Linked DNA regions of Homo sapiens: region 1 is linked to region 2. The links come from fine-mapping of genetic effects on plasma protein levels. A gene starts in region 2. The other region holds a variant in brackets. All regions are shown on one strand. Distances are from middle to middle.

Region 1 (5,371 bases), 71 kb after region 2:
CGGCAATTTTGCCTCCTGGAGGACATATGGCAATGTGTCATGTTCACAACTACACCAATTGTCATGCTTGGGGATAGGTTCCAGCCCATGCTGAGGTCCGGAGGGAATGAGTGGATGAGCAGAAACAATACTCAGGGGGCCGTAGGCAGGTGAATATGGTTTTATTCAGCAGCAGCTTTCATCAACAGCTTTCTCACACTGTCCGCCCTGTCTTGGCTACTTAATCTGGCGGCTCCCACACACAGCTGCGTGGCCCGCTCTCCCTTGCCTTCAGGGTCAGCAGCTTAATTCTTTCTTTGGGCATGTGTCCTGGCTCCCCGCAGTCTGTCTGCAATGACAGGCAGCTCTGACTCTCTCTCTTTCTCTGGGCACAAGCGCAAGCATGCCTGCACAGTGTCAACAGGACAATTATATCTTTTACAGACAATAGTGGTGTACAGCCAAGTGATGGCCTTCTCATGTTATGGCTACATGGCTGTGATAACAAGTGGAATTATACGCCTGCACTCTAAACTTGCTGACTCACGCAGGATGTAAACATTCTACCTCGGTCTATCTTTGACCAAAGCACAGCCATATTCCTTACACAATGTATGGAGGCATTTTTTATTGAAACGACTGGTGAGGGAAGTGCTGCTGGCGTTTAGCAGGCAAAGGCTAGGGATGCTGCTACATATCCTGTAATACACAGGATGGTCCCTCCCCTGCCTTCCCCTCCACTACCCCCTTAACCAAAAATTGTCCATTCCAAAATGTCGGTAGTGCCAAGGTTGAGAAACTGTGGCCTATACCACGTAATCAGCCCAAGCCAAGCACATCAAGGTGCAAAGCAGGATAAAGGTTGATCCTGCCCTCCCACCTCCCACTCTCGTCCTAGAGAGATTTGGTATAGCTGAACTGTACCACAGGGAAGAGGGTGGTTGGTGCTGGAATGGGGGTCTGAAAAGAATGCTGTGATTGCCCCAAAAGGAGGGACAGTGTAATTCTGGACATAAAAAATGGATATCCTCTGATTTTTTCCTCAATAAAAATGTCATGGAAGCATGTTTGAAGCTGTGCAACCATACACTTTAAGCTACATGGGGTATGTTACTGGGCTGGTGACTAGGAAGGTAAAGGAGCCTGGCTGGAGTGCAACAAAAGACATCACTTTCCCGTGGCTCTGGGGCATGAACTCTCAGTACTGCTGCTGTAGATGCCTCATGTTCTAGGTTCTGGAAGGTTGCCAGTCACTATGAGTCTTGCTGAGAATTAGCAGTTGGGCTGGTCAGGTTCTGGAGTGTGTGAGGTCTAGACCAGCACTCTGTACATAGGAGCTCAGGGTCTCCTGCCATTGCTCTTAGTCAAGCGCTTATCTATGCCTTCCTTCAACACTTATCTAAATAGTCCATGTTTGTCAGCATTGGGCTAGATCCTGGGGACACAACAGTGCCTAACGAATGAGGTCCCTGTTCTCAGAGCACTGAGGGAGCAGACGTTCATCAATGAGTCACATCTATCAGTATATAAAATGCTAATTGGGAAAGATTTATGAATGAGAGAAAGGTAGTTTGGGGAGCTTGTATAACCTGACCTAACCTGGGGAGGTGCAAAGGCCTTACGGAGGAAGTGACGCAGGAGCTGAGAGTGAAGAAAGAGTGAGGCTGGTGTTTAAAGGAGCCAAGGAGTTCTCAAGAGCTCCCAGGGCCATGGGCAGTACGAATAGGAAGCTGAGTTCCTCCTCATGCCTCTCTTTTTCCCTGGCCCACCCTTCCAGGTGTGTGAAAAGCTGTGCGTGCCACAGGATCTCTGGAAGGCTGGGTCTTGGTGCTGGCAAGAGAGACTTTGTGTTCTGATTTTGGTGGTGCTGGTAGGTGGGTAGGTGTGGGAGGTAATGAAGGTGAGGGAATAACAGAATGAATGCCCTGGAGAACTATTAGACAGTTGCTCAAGCCCTGGATGGAAAATCAGTTCTTTTCCCAGCTGTGGTCTGCACTGTGACTTTAGGCTAATCTCAGAGCCTCACAGGCCTATTGCACAGTGGAATAAATAATCTTGCTCCCCTCCACCCTGCTTATCTCACTTAGTTAAAAATGTAGGCCAGGTCCAGTGGCTCAAGCCTGTAATCCCAGCACTTTGGGAGGCGAGGCCAAGGCAGGTGGATCACAAGGTCAGGAGTTCAAGACCAGCCTGGCCAAGATGGTGAAACCCTGTCTCTACTAAAAATACAAAAATTAACTGGGTGTGGTGGTGGGCGTTTGTAGTCCCAGCTACCCAGGAGGCTGTGGCAGGAGAATCACTTGAACCCGGGAGGCGGAGGTTGCAGTGAGCTGAGATCACATTACTCTGCTGGGTGACAGAGCGAGACTCTGTCTCAAAAAAAAAAAAAGTAATAATAAAAATAATAAAAATAATGTAAACAGTACCAGGGGACCATACCAGAATAAGCTGGTTTTCTGTGGCTCTGTAGGCCCTGAGCAGAGCGATAAATAAGAGATAATTATGGTTATTAAGACTAAAAGATTTTTCAAGGAGGGCCAACAAAACAAGGTGAAAGAATCAGGTGTAGTGAAGAATCAGGTATAGAATCAGTTGCAGAGAAGGCTGAAGAAGCACTCAGCGCTGACTTGCCAGCACTTGAGTAGTAAGAATTACTTGGAACCTATAATATTGCTTTCCCCATCTTTGCTGACAATGGGAGGAGGAAACTGACTTGAGATGTAGACAAGAACTGGGATTAGACAACAGGGGGATTTGGGGTTCGAAGTGCTGCTGGATTCAGGAATGGTGCCTAAGGTGAGCTGTGAACTAGCCTCTCCTGGTTCATGCTAACATGAGAAAAGTGTGTGGGGTGTTTGAGTGAAAGGCATGTTGAGGGTCCCGTTGATCTCTGGAATTTTCTTGCAGCTCATTTCTTGCTCCAGCCCAGTGCGAGAGACCACATTTTGAATCAGATCCAGCAATCCTAGTCTGAGG[G/A]TGGGGAAGGAGGAAGGATAATCCAAAGGAAGGACTGGAATGTGAGCGTGACAGGAGCTTGCGCTTTTACCCTACCTCAGGTGTGATGCTTCTTATTTCCAATGATGCTAATAAAATCCCTGCTTGCAAAATTGACTCTCTCCTCACCCGTGTTCTCCTACTGTAGCTTTTGAGACAGCTGGTTTATGGATTGTTGATAAGTCAGAGATTCTGCTGAATGCTAAGCAGATATACTTCCAGAATCTTTGCACACTCTCTCTCACTCTCCTTCCTTTTCTGAAAAGCCCATTCATATTTAATTCAATTCTTCTAAATGGCTTCCACATCAGCCTGTCTTCCCACTTTATAATGCATCATAGTCTCCCTTAATGCATGTACCTGCCAAATTAAGCTTTATGGCTTATCAGCTAGAACTGCCATAGGATCAAGCCAAGTATTCTTGCCAATTATGTTATGGGCTTTCACACCTGCCAGCTCTTTTTTATTGTTGAGGTTGGTATATACCTTTCTTCTTACAAAGCCCCGCATTCATTGTTTTCAGCTGTCAGTCACTTCCACACTGGCAATTTCGCACGGTTACCGCTTAGGTAACTGGGAGGAAGGGAGAGGATCGGCTGAGATATAACTCTCTGGGGAGTTCTCATTTGGAGACCTAGATTATTTGGGTATGAGGGTACACTTGCTTCATCTATGCAAGTTAGCCTTGGCTTGGGGCCATTGCACATCGGGCAGAAGGCCAGAAGGGAGCAGCAACAGCTCAGCTGCTTTGCTCTTGGGCCTATTAATTGTTCTCTGCCCTTCCCTCCTTATGAGGTCTGAGTCTGCTCTAGACTCAAATCCAGCGATAACCTCCTCACACTATCTTGTCCAGTCCCCCTTTAACACACAAATACTCTTGGGGCCTTGATACCTTAAGCCAATGGCAGTTGAGATCTTATTAGGAATTCCTTACCAGTCAGCAGGGAGCTGGAGTGGAACCTGGACTCGGGGCCTGGGTGTGGGTCACTCAGAGGTAGGAAGGGGGATTATCCCATATCCCCTCAGAGCTCAAGCACCAAAATGTGTGTCCACAGACACTTACAAATGCAGTGCTGAGGCAATGGGACACCAGGGGCCTCCAGCAGGAGAGGCCTCAAGTAAGTGACCCGCACCCGCATCGTGGTACGGGAGAGGAAAGGGGGCTTAGGGAGAGCAGGGAAGACAGGGTTTGAAGCCTGGCTCTGCCACGTACTTCCTTGAGGGGCCTCAGTGGGCCATGAGTCTCTCTCTCTCTCTGCCTCCCTACTACTTTATATTGAATGCTTTCTGTATGCAGGCACTGTTATATGCTTTACATTCATGATTGCATTCAACTTTACAGCACCATGCTGTGTGAGTATTATCCTGAAAGTATTTGGTCCTGTACAGTTTGAGTCCTTTACAGATGTTGAGAGTGCTGGCTTTGGAATCAGAGCTGGATTTGACTCCTGGCTATGTCATTACTAGCCATGTGACTTTGGAGCAGGTAATTTCACCTCAAACTTCATCTGTAAAACAGAGATAATAGTGCCTAGCTCAGAGTGTTGTCATGGGAATTAAATGCAGATAGATAAATAAATGCATATTTACATATTTGTTTATTTATAAATCACCTAGCAAATGGCCTAGTACATTCGTAGGCACCCAATCAATGGTAGTTGTGCTAACATGCAAAGGAGGAGAGGGATGGTGAAGCAGTCTGGATGCAGAAGCTTTCTACTGGCTTTTGTAGGACTGGGCCGAACTCTAGACACTTTCTGGCAGAAGGCTCTGCAGTCCCAGGTCACCTCCCCCACCAGTGAGTGTCAGTGTTAACCAGTACACTCTGGGTTGTTTTCAGAGGCTGCATAAGGAGCTACCGCTCAGCCTGGAGGAACTGGAGGATGTGTTTGATGCCCTGGATGCTGATGGCAATGGCTATCTGACCCCACAGGAGTTCACTACTGGATTTAGTAAGTTCTGATGGGTGCTGGGGACCTCAGGGTTATGGGTCTACCTAACACTGTATAAGGTGCATTCCTGTCCCTTGTAGACCTGGGGGGCAGGTAGTAAAGCTTTCCTGCCCTCCTTTCAGGGACCTGGAGCTCAAGGTCTCCAGGCTCTAGATTGCTTGGGCCTCCTCACATGCCCGTCTCAACTGCTTACATTGCCGCTTGCTCAGTGCCCACTGCACTGCCATTACCAAGCTCCCTCCCACTGGGACTGGCAAGGGAGATGGACGGAAGCTCTGCAGAAGCCATAGCATAAAAGGGGGAGCTGTGATGAGATTTGCAGCCTCTCCTTTTCTGCCTTCATAGAAAAATGGCCAAAAGGTGGGACAACTGGATGGCTCATTCCAACCCAAGTCTGGCTGAATTTTCCAGGTTGAGGGATAACAGCTATCAGAGGAATTTCTAGA
Region 2 (5,371 bases):
TTGGCAGCTGGGCAGGTTGCACAGCTGGGGAGGATGACCCAAGTGAGCTGAATACTGGCCAAGGTCCTGTTCTTCTTTCACGGCTACCCTGCTTCTGTCACAACCCCCATCGTACTGAACTGCAGTTGTCAACTCCCTGGCTGATTCCCTGTGAAACAGAGCTCCTAGGGAAGAGCCTAGGTCCAGACCAGCTGTACAACTTGAATGGTCCAGTGTAAAATACAACTTATATGGCCCCTTGTTCAAAAATTGTTAAGATTTCAAGAAGGTGGCAGGACAGCATTAAACTCTGTATGAAGCCCTTCTAAGTGAGTGGCCTATGTCAGGGGTCCCCAACCCCAGGCCACAAACCGGTAATGGGGTACTGGTCCGTGAACCCTATTGAGAACTGTGCATGTGAGGGATCTAGTTTGCACACTCCTTATGAGAATCTAACTAATGCCTGATGATCTGAGGTGGAACAGTTTTATCCTGAAACCATTCCCACCCCCCACTCCCACCCCTGGTCCATGGAAAAATTGTCTTCCACGAAACAGGTTCCTGGTTCCAAAAAGGTTGGGGACCTCTGGCCTATGTGACTTCATAGGTCATATGCCCAGGAAGCCAGCCTTGCCTCGGTCTTATTCGTCACCTAGAGAGAGCTCAATAAATCCTCATTGAATAAACGAGTTTGGGTTTCTCCTGCAACACTGAATCATGTAATCATGGGGAAAGAGGAGGTGGAGATCCTCATCCTTCCCATGGTCCAGGCTAGCTCCATAGCCTGGGGCCAATCAGTGAGTATCAACTGTGCCTCAGTTTCCTACATCCATACATTGGAAGAACCATCTTTTCCCTGTCGCTTTTCTGCCACGGGCCAAGAGTAAAAGAGGCACGAATGTACAAGCTGAACTTGCAGCAGTTAATGTGATGGCTCTGTGATTCTGAAGGGCACCATGAGGCGTGGTGTTCTGTTAAAGAAAACGCCAGCAAATTAGAGACATCCCCATAGAAGCCAGAAGATGTGGTTAATGTTTGCAACATGAAATGTCTAGGTGTTCTGAGGTGGGCTAAAGGACAGTTGCTTTTCTTCCCTATTAAATAGGTGGTTAGACTCAGACACAAGGGAACAGGAAGCAGAATGGCATCAGAGACAAAGATGACTGCATGGAGTTTGGTGAGAAACCATCCTCAAAGCAGCAATTTTTTGGATGAGTCTCAGCCTTTCTGAGCCTCTGTTATTCCAACTGTGAAGTGATACAATTAACAATAACAAAAATTTGATAAGAGCAAATACATTTGGCATTTTTAATGAACCTACTACTATTCTAAGCCCTTTAAAGATACACATTTATTTCGATTCATAGAACACCCCATGATGCAGGAGCTGTTACTATCCACATTGTACTGATGGAGAAAGTTCCAGTAACTTGCCAAGGACGTAGCTGGCAAGTTGGAGCACTGAGATTCAAACCCAGGGCTTTGGCCTCCAGAGTCTGTGCACTAACCACTGTAATACCTCTGAGACTGTAAGGGGCAAATGAATGACAACGCATTGATTTAGAAGTGAAAGGCGATCTAAACGTGCAAGTATTAACACTATTAAAAACAACAATAACAATGGTAGGTACCTCCGATGCCTCTGACCTTATCTCTCTGGTCACAGTTTTCTGCTCTGTAAAATGGGTGGGCAGGCTTTACACTGGATAATCTCTGAGGCCCCTTCCACTTCTCAGATTCTGATAATGAAATGTCCTTCTTTCCTCACATAAGGCTGAGAGAAGGTCAAGCCACCAGCTTGCAGACCTTGGGAGTTGACACAGGGAAGCATACCCAGGACAGAGCCAGAAAAGCCAAGGCACGCAGTAGGGACACACCAGAGGGCAGGCCTCAGAGCCCCTGACAGCCTTCTGAAACTCTGGCAGGGTGGAGGGAGGTTGTGGGCTAGTGGCTGGCTGGGCTGCAAGGAGAAGAAAGGACTCCACAGAGTAATTTATAACAGCTGCTCAGTAAGTGCTAATTTGTTTCTCTCCACCTTGGAATAGGACTTAGCGCGTGTGAGAGGGGGATGCTACTACATAAACCAGTACCAGAAAGATGGGCTTGCCAGGAAAGAACTGGGGCACTCTGCAGGGGCAGTGTCTGGGGAAGGGTTCTCCAAAAAGGTGACATTTCAGAGGGGCCTGGATGGATGAGTAGGATTTCAACAGGCAGAGATGAAAGGGGAGGGTGTTCCAGGCAAAAAGAAGAACTCCCAGCAGCCATGAAGAACAGCTGGTGTTTGGCAACAGCTAGTGTGTCCAGAGCGAAAGTGTTGTGTGTGTGTGAGGGAGAGAGGGTGAGGCTGGAAAATTAGGTTGTGGCCGGAGAGGGCAGGGTGGGCCTTGCCTTGTGCGCTAAGCTGAGGGGTTATCCTGCAGCCGGAGCACCTCGGGAGGCCTTTGAAGATTTACTCAGTGCTTTATTAACAAATACGTATTGGGTTTTTGGTGTTTTGTTTTGTTTTTAACGATTCATGCCCACAGTAGAATATATAGAAGAGTCAGAAAAGTATAAAGAATAAGGATCCCCTTTAGTTTCTGCTCCCAGAGGTAACAGCCGGAGTGACGCCGGGCTGCTGCCGGGTTTTCGGGGGTGCACTCCCAGACACCACCTCTCCAGTGAGCCAGCGAGGGCCGGACTGATGCCCCACCTTGGGAGCCTGAATCGGGGCAAGGGGCCTAGGGAGCAGCGGGACCCCGGAAGCCCGACCAGTCAGGCCGGCTAAGTCGGCAGCCGCCCCGCCCTCGCCACCCAGCCTCCCTGGCGGCCTCAGGTCGCGCCTGCAGGCCCGGACCCCACCGCTTGGCGCGCGCACGTCCCGGAGGGCGTCCAGGGGGCGCCGCTTCCCGTTCAGCTCCGCTGAGGGGCTGGTCCAGCCCGCGCGGCTCGGAGCGGAAAGAGTCGGGCGGAGCAGGCGGCTGCTTGACAGCTGAGAGCCGAGCGGGCGGCGCGGGCAGGTCCACGGGAAGCCTACACGCCCAAGGTAACGTGGAGGAAGGTTGAGGGTGGGCGGCCGGGGCGGCCGGGGGGCGGCGCTTCCTGCCTGCTCCTCCGGCTGCGAAGTGTGAGCGCGTGTCTGCCGCACATGGAACTCGCAGAGGGCCTGGATGGAGGCTGTGTGCCCTTGGGGGGGAACAGCTGGCTCCCCTGCCACCCCCAGGCCTGGCCTGGCCCTTGCTCCCCTCCCTGTCACTCGGTAACGGGACTGGAGGAGAGCCGAGAAGCACTAGGGTTTTGGTCAGGAAAGGACCTTAGGAACCCTCCAGCCTCATCCAGCCTCTTCATTTCACAGATGAGGAAACTGAGGCTCAGAATGGTAAAGTGACTTGCCCAAGGTCTCAAGTCTAAGAACCAAAACTCCTACCTTGCAGGTCAGTGCTACTAGGAGCCCTGGCCACGCAGGCAGCATCCACAACTGTTGCCATGCCGAGAAACAAAGAACCGAGACAGACAGTCAGAAAGACACAGAGAGAGAACCTCCCAGAGCAAAGGAAGGAGGTCAGGAAGTGGGCGGCTGCTGGGGCTTGGCTTCCGCCCTGGCCCCCGCGTGTGCTGGCCTGGCTGTGTGGCTCAGAGGCGTTGTGCTGACTCTGTCCGTGTGTGTGTGTGTCCGTGTGTGTGTGTGTCTGTGTGTGTGTGTCCGTGTGTGTGTGTGTGTGTCCGTGTGTGTGCGAGTGTGTGTCTGTGCACCCATGCATGCACGGGATGCAGCGAATGTACCCTGCCACGTGGGAAAGCCCTCTGAGTTCATTTATCTGTTTACACAGTGTGCTTAGGAACCTGCCCTGTTTGGCTCTGTGGAGGACACCAGGAGTCTCAAAGGAATTCGTTCTGTGTGACTCAAGAGGACAGAAAGAGCCAATCCGTGGGAGTCCCCAGGGTGGTCAGAGGGTCAGGAGGAAGAACCTAACTCATGAGGTGATGGGTTCCTTGTCTCTGGAAGAAAGCAGCATGTACCGAAGAGTCTTTTTATCAAGGATGTGGGCATAGGGATATGAAATCAGAGCAGTTTGCTCCACGTGGAATCAGCATTTTTGTTGAAGGGTCCAGAGTTCATGCCCCTTTTCAGGTGAAATGAATATGTACAACCTCATGGTTTAGTATTTGCCCATAAGAGCTACTTCATGCGCAGTTTTTAAGTGATAAGTGAGAGGCTTCAGGTATGGCTTCCGAGGTCCTGTCACCTCTCGGTTCTATAAGTGAGAGGCTTCAGGTACGGCTTCCGAGGTCCTGTCACCTCTCGGTTCTATACTATAAAGTGTGTAGAGGGAGTTTGGAGGAGGGAGGTTACTTCTGGAAGGAGTGACTCGCAGAGGGCGTCCTGGATGTGGCACTGAGGCCGGGCCTTGAATAGGAGGCTGGGTCTGGGCATCTTGGGGAAGGACGGCTGAGCAAAGCCGTGAAGGTGGGTTGTACCTGAGGAGCAAGGAGTAATGTAGTGGACAATCCGGTGAGGAGTGCTGCCTGGGAGAGATGGCAGAGGCTTGGAGTGTTACGAGTCTAGAAACTTCATTATTAAGCCTAGGGATATTTTGATGGTTTCTAAGAAGGGAAGTGTTGTTCCTGGAGCTGGGTTCAGAAGAACATGTCATCTGCACCTGGGTATGGGATGTACTGCAGTGGAGGAAGCTGTGGGAAGAGAACCTGGGAAGAAGCCCATTGCAGTCACCATGAGGGGTTGAACAGGGCTGGTGGGAATGGACAGGAAGGGGCTAAAAGGCTTGGGGGTAGGGGAAAAGTCATCTGCCATGTGCCAGGGCCTGTGGTAGGAGATTTTCATGTTTAATCTCATTTAATCCTCCTGACAACCTCATGAGGAGATTGCTATGATTGTTCCATATTGTAGAGGAGGAAACTGAGAGAGAGGTTAGGTGGTTTATCCAAGGTCATACAGAAAATAAGTGGTGGGATGGGGATTTTAACCCAGAGAACAATGGAGTAGATGCAATCTGGTAACTGAATAAATGTCAGGGACCAGAGCAGAAGAGACCAAGATGATGGCGATTTGGATTCCAGAGTTAGAGTGGCTGGTGATGCCACTGACAGAGATGGAACCCCAGGTGTGGGGGGTGATTGGAGATGCGTCACGCTGTGGTGAGCCTGCAGAAGGCAGGCCCCAGCACTGGGGCAGTGGCCGCAGTAGCCATCCATTCTGCCTTGGGGCTCCTTGTTGCAATGGTTTGCTGAACCTGTTGTGGGGAGGGAGGGTTGAATCTGCAGGCTGCCTGGGTACTGGCAATGCAGCTGAGAGAAGCTAGGGGAGAGCTAGTGAGGGATTCCTCAGGGACAGGCTAATCACCCACTGAGTTCACATCTCTCTCTTGCTTTTCTTCCACACAAAATAGTGTCT

Direction of the effects. Positions count from the first base shown, and alleles are read on the strand shown. Strength reflects both the effect of a copy and how common the allele is.
As copies of G replace A in region 1, the plasma level of the protein whose gene starts at base 2,910 in region 2 goes up (weak association).

The links. PIP is the posterior inclusion probability: the model's chance that the variant is causal. Protein levels are from antibody-based Olink assays in UK Biobank. Linkage for the fine-mapping came from a reference panel and not from the study's own genotypes, which makes the PIPs less certain.
Region 1: its variant is fine-mapped to the plasma level of the CRACR2A protein (UK Biobank, PIP above 0.99).

Annotation. Positions count from the first base shown.
Region 1 is chr12:3,679,792-3,685,162 of GRCh38, reverse strand. It overlaps CRACR2A (calcium release activated channel regulator 2A), which reads left to right. Exons shown (of 20, transcript NM_001144958.2): 5 at 4,814-4,925. Among named protein-coding and RNA genes, the nearest start is that of CRACR2A, 71 kb to the left of the region's middle. The variant G/A (reference allele first, on the strand shown) is at 2,956.
Region 2 is chr12:3,750,648-3,756,018 of GRCh38, reverse strand. CRACR2A (calcium release activated channel regulator 2A) reads left to right here and starts at 2,910. Exons shown (of 20, transcript NM_001144958.2): 1 at 2,910-3,004. RefSeq lists a silencer at 2,676-3,175.